Linked DNA regions of Homo sapiens: region 2 is linked to region 1. Evidence: fine-mapped expression QTL. Tissue or cell type: cerebellar hemisphere. Region 1 holds a variant in brackets; the other region holds the start of a gene. All regions are shown on one strand. Distances are between the middles of the regions.

What was found. PIP is the estimated chance that this variant, and not a neighbour inherited with it, causes the effect. A credible set is the group of variants that fine-mapping cannot tell apart.
Region 2: TMEFF1 starts here. The variant in region 1 is the best candidate, but not a certain one, in a credible set for the expression of TMEFF1 in cerebellar hemisphere (GTEx, PIP 0.83).

The regions. Positions count from the first base shown.
Region 1 is chr9:100,844,147-100,847,003 of GRCh38, forward strand. All of the region lies in intron 3 of LOC105376179 (a long non-coding RNA gene), which reads left to right. Among named protein-coding and RNA genes, the nearest start is that of PLPPR1, 180 kb to the right of the region's middle. The variant A/G (reference allele first, on the strand shown) is at 1,365.
Region 2 is chr9:100,471,537-100,474,197 of GRCh38, forward strand. It overlaps TMEFF1 (transmembrane protein with EGF like and two follistatin like domains 1), which reads left to right and starts at 1,613. Exons shown (of 10, transcript NM_003692.5): 1 at 1,613-2,204. The coding sequence starts at 2,009. All of the region lies in intron 1 of MSANTD3-TMEFF1 (MSANTD3-TMEFF1 readthrough), which reads left to right. It overlaps LOC124902237 (a long non-coding RNA gene), which reads right to left and starts at 1,354. Exons shown (of 3, transcript XR_007061702.1): 1 at 1,267-1,354; 2 at 841-971. RefSeq lists silencers at 1,429-1,588, 1,869-1,928, 2,239-2,398.

The DNA of each region.
Region 1 (2,857 bases):
CCAAACATTGGACTCCAAGTTCTTCAGTTTTGGAACTCGGACTGGCTCTCCTTGCTCCTCAGCTTGCAGACGACCTGTTGTGGGACCTTTTGATCATGTGAGTTAATACTTAATAAAATCCCCTTTATATATGTATATATCTATCCTATTAGTTCTATCCCTCTAGAGAACTCTGACTAATACCATAGGCTCAGATGGGTGGATTTAAAAGGCTTGTTAGAAAATACTCCGTATTCTCTAGGTAACTCAGTAGTCAGCAGAATGATTCTGTAAGTATCAAACACTAGGAAGGATAGTGTGATGGCCTCTGAGGCAGTCACTGAGGTCTCTAAATTAGTTTGGGAGCAGAAGGCAAAGATAAAGAAAAATAATTAGATCTATAAGCAAATTTAAGACTCTCATTATAAAGTATTAACCTGATAATAGCTTATAATGAGAGGTTATAAGGTATTATCTTATTTGTACTTTCTTTAAACAGAAAGTGATAGAAGATTGATTTTAGATTTGGTATAAAATTTTATCTTAAATCCAAGATTTGTAATTGCTAGAATGTAAGTTGTCATGTGAGGAAATTTCAATATTCCAGTCCTGGGGAAAATGATTGTTTTTTTCCTAGAGTTAATCTTTTTCACTTGAAAACTGCAATTTTTTGCACAGTTCTTGGTCCTTAGGATACAATGATGGTTTAATAATCTCATCTGACTTGGTTACAGCGTCTCTACAGTGGCCCCAACAATACGCTGAATAGACTTAGTTGTGCTGACTGCACAGTAGAGAAATGATTAATAGCCAAACAGCCAAATCTGCCCAAAGTGATTGCACCATACCTCATCTCAGTTTCTCACATTTTTTCATTAAAATGGTAGATTGATTTTTCTGCTTTCACGGCTTCTTCAGTGTAACGTGGTGCATTTCTTGCCTGGCAGTTGTAAAGCTGAGCTCTTGTTATTCTGTGTGCATGTGCACATGTGAGTATGGTTGCATATGTGCTATAGTGCAAAAGTTCTGGACTGGGTGGTAGGAAATCTACGTTTATTTTTACTTCCTGTACTCATGGTCTAGGTGACTTAGTGAAAACCACTGCCTCTTTGAACTCTTAAATTTTGCAATAGCAGTGTTTCTTTTATTTTTTATTTTTTTTATTCTTGCCATCCTTAAAACGTATATGAGAGCAATACTCACTCAGCATTGCTGGGTAAGCCAGTGAGACGCCATGGTGTAATGGTGAGGATCAGCGGTACTCTCTGCTTTTCAGGTAGTGTTTCCACAGTTGCCTGAATATGGCTATTGTGAGCTTCAAGTGAGAATGTATCTGCACCAGAAAATCAACCTCCTCCAATGAAATAACAACTTCTCTTCTAACA[A/G]TGATAAATCTTGATGCCTTTTTAACATAAGATAAAAACATGGTAAGAGAGCTGGGTGGGGTGGCTCATGCCTGTAATCCCAGCACTTTGGGAAGCTGAGGCAGGCGGATTACTGGAAGTCAGGAGTTTGAGAGCAGCCTGGCCAGCATAGTGAAACACTGCCTCTACTAAAAATACAAAAATTAGCTAGGTGTGGTGGTGTGCGCCTGTAATCCCAGCTACTTGGGAGGCTGAGGCATCAGAATCGCTTGAACCTGGGAGGCAGAGTTTGCAGTGAGCCGAAATCGTGCCACTGCACTCCAGCCTGGGTGACAGAACGAGACTATATCTCAAAAAACAAAAACAAACAAGTAAAAACAAAAACAAAACCAAAAAACATGGTAATACATCTGACATTAATCTTTAGTCACTACTTTACTCATTTGAGAATTAGGAAGAGATCAGTTAAACATCTTAAAGGTAAGGGTAAAAGTATATACATGGCTTTGGTCCTTTCTTTACACTTTTTCTGTCTTCTCCACAAAATAATTGGCGTCCACAGTGGGCCTCAGTGACTGACATTGGGAGCTTTCAGATGACTTCTCCATTAGCTCTCTGTATGACATTAGATGCATTCAAGTACATAGTAGATATTTTTATGTTGTTAGAGCTTCCCAATTTTATATTAGAATAGATGTTCTAGCTTCTAAATGAGTTGCCTTGAAGTACAGGAGTTTAGAGGTCACAGAAAGCCTATCTTCATTTAAGGAACATATTACATTTCAGGTATTTTAACTAATGGTACCCATTACTAAACCCTGATGTAGTGGATTAATAGAATACCAGACCTGAAGGCCAAGAATCTTTTTTTAAATTTTTTTTTTAAGTTTCAATAGGTTTTTGGGGAACAGATGGTGTTTGGTTACATGATGAGTTCTTTAGTAGTGATTTCTAAGATTTTGGTGCCCCCATCACCCGAACAGTGTACACTGTACTCAATGCAGTCTTTTATCCCTCTCCCTCTTCCATCCTTTCCCCAGAGTCCCCAAATTCCACTGTATCATTCTTATGGAAGGCCAAGATTCTTAAGGGAAATTGATACCTTCATGAAGGAAAGTCTGATGTTTTCTGTCTCATAGAGTTCCCTAACTATGCAGCCACAAATAGAAAGGAGATCCTTGTGTATATGGCAGGAAGAGAATTCCCAGTTTTCATCATAACTAAAAAAATTCTGTGACTCGTGAGTTCAGCCAGAAAGGTGAGGTGACTTTTCTGTCTCTCCATAAGTCAGTCCCCAATAAACTCTCTCCATACCTGCTGTATTAGTCAGGGTTCTCCAGAGGGACAGAACTAATAGGATACATGTATATATGAAAGGGAGTTTATTAAGGGGAATTGACACACGCGATCACAAGGTGAAGTCCCACGATAGGCCGTCTGCAAGTTGAGGAGCAAGGAAGCCAGTAGTGGATCAGTCCAAGTCCCAAAACCTCAAAAGTAGAGAAGCTGACAGT
Region 2 (2,661 bases), 370 kb before region 1:
TTTTGTGTGCTTATCCAGTTATCCTTTAGATAAATTCCAATAAATGGAATTGCTAAAGAGTAAACATATTTTAAAGGTTTTTTGATACATAGTCAAATTGCCCTCCTAAAATGTATAAATTAGTAGTGCTCAGTCTGCCAATTCTTTTAACTCTTGTTAATCATCCAAAGGGAAAATAATTGTGTGTGCGTGTGTGTGTGTGATGGAGTTTCGCTCTTGTTGCCCAAGCTGGAGTGAAATAGTGCAATCTCTGCTCACTGCAACCTCTACCTCCCGGGTTCAAGCGATTCTCCTGCCTCAGCCTCCTAAGTAGCTGGGATTATAGGCGTTACAGGTGCGCGCCACCATGCCTGGCTAATTTTTTCTATTTTTAGTAGAAACGGGGTTTCACCATGTTAGCCAGGTTGGTTTCGAACTCCTGCCCTCAGGTGATCCGCCCACCTCGGCCTCTAAAAGTGCTGGGATTACAGGTGTGAGCCACTGCCCCTGGCCAGAGTTTTGTGGTTTTAATCTTTTATTACTAGTGGGTTCAAATCTGTTTTCATGTATTTATTGTCTGTACTTTTTGTGAATAAGAGTCAAGCTTCCTATTTTTCTATTATGTTAACTTTTTCTTCTTGACATATAACTTTATATTAAGTATATTGTCTCATATTTGCACTGAAGACATTTTTCCTAATGTGGCTTTGCTTGCGGTGGCTTTTCACACATTTCTTAATTTTATGAATCAAATTGATCAGTTTTTCAATGAGACTTAAAATTCCTTCTGGGGTGGGATGCAATATAATAGAATGAAAAAGGCAGAGGACTTTCACACAATTCAGTCCATGATCTTAGTACCTATGTCTAGTTATCACCTAGCAGGATGTGGTAGGAAGAGCACTGGACTGGGAGTCAGATCACCTTGCCTCTCTGGGTCCCTACTTCCTCATCTGTAGAATGGAGATAAGAACGAAAACTCCCTCCGAGGCCTGTAAAAAAATAATTGAAGAGAATGCACATAAAGAGCTTTCACCAGGCCTTGTATATTAGAAAATCCTCTCTGAATCTCAGCTTTTGTTAGGGGGAGAGGGCAACACAGACTTTTGTAAAACTATTTTCACTCACTTGTATGTGAGTCTACGGGAATGAGGTGGGGATGAGGAACCTAGAAATCTAACCATTCACCCAACATCTCTGAGAACTGCATGGCTAGAGTCAGAACTTGGGCTCCCATCCTGGTCCTGCCCATTTCTTGGTATGCAACCTTGGACAAGTCACCTTTACCTCTTCCGTGACTCAGTTTCTTCCACCTAAAAACTATTATAGATATATGACAGACCACCTGCCCTCATTCCCAGCCCTGCTGCTGGGCGAAGGAAACGCTTCAAAAACAGCTCACAAAGGGCGGCAAACAAGTCTGCTACGGTGCAGCCTACCGCCGAGGGGTGGCCCCAACCCCGGCCCCCGCGCCCCTGCCCTGTCGCAGGAACAATAGCTCCCCTGGAGGCGGCGCCGGCCGCGGCCGGGGGCGGAGCTGTCGGCGCGGGAGCTGGGGGTGTGCGCGGGGCGGGGTCGCAGCCACCCCTCCCGCCGGCGGCTCCGTCACGCGCCCCTCACCGGGCGGGCCGGGGTCTTTGTGACGCGGTGGCAACGGCCACGGACACAAAGGGAAGGCGAGGAGGCGAGCAAGAGGCTGGGCCTGCCTCCGGCCCGCGACCCCCGCCCGCCGCGCGCGCGCCCGCCCGCTCCCCTCGCCGCGGTGTCCCCCACGCCGGCTCGCACCCTCGCGCGCACCCTTGCGCGCCCGCGACCCTCGCACGCGCCCGGACCCGCCGACTCCGTCCCGAGCGCCGCGGGCCCGGGCCTGGCGGACGCTGCGGGTGGGGCGGGGATGCTGACGGGCTGCTCCCCGGCTCAGCGGCGCGGCTGCTAGGAGGCACCGAGGCAGCGGCGGGGCTCTGGGCGCGCGGCTGGATGCCCCCGGCCTGCGGCTCCCTGCGCTTCCCGCCGTCCAGGGGCACCAGTCATGGGCGCCGCAGCCGCTGAGGCGCCGCTCCGGCTGCCTGCCGCGCCTCCGCTCGCCTTCTGCTGCTACACGTCGGTGCTTCTGCTCTTCGCCTTCTCTCTGCCCGGGAGCCGCGCGTCCAACCAGCCCCCGGGTGGTGGCGGCGGCAGCGGCGGGGACTGTCCCGGCGGCAAAGGCAAGAGCATCAACTGCTCAGGTAGGACCGGTCGGAGCCGGCCCTAGGTCTTCCCACCCCTCCGTTGCCGCCTCCCTCGTGGTCCCTGCGGTCGGCCGGGCTGGGAAAGACCCCGTCGTGGGGGTCCCAGGGGTGGGCCCGAGGGTGAGCGAGGGCGGAGGGCAGGGCGCGAGCGTGCGGTGTGGCTTTGGGACCGGCGCTGGGGATGGGAGTGGCCGTGGGTGCGTCCGAGTGTGTCGAGTGGCTGGGCGAGGGCGGCCCGGCGTGTGGGGAGGCGGTGGGGCCGGGGCCGGGGCCGGCGAGGCTGAGCGGCCGGCCGGGGCTCCCGGTGTGGTCGTGGGTGTGCTCGCGGGAGCGTGTGTTTGTGTTGTGAAGGCTGAGGGGAGGGAGGGCGGCCCCAGGCAGGGATCTGTGTGTGTGTGTGCAGAGTGCGGTGGGTGGGAGACGGCGAGGGGGCTGGGCGGGGTGAGGGCAGGGG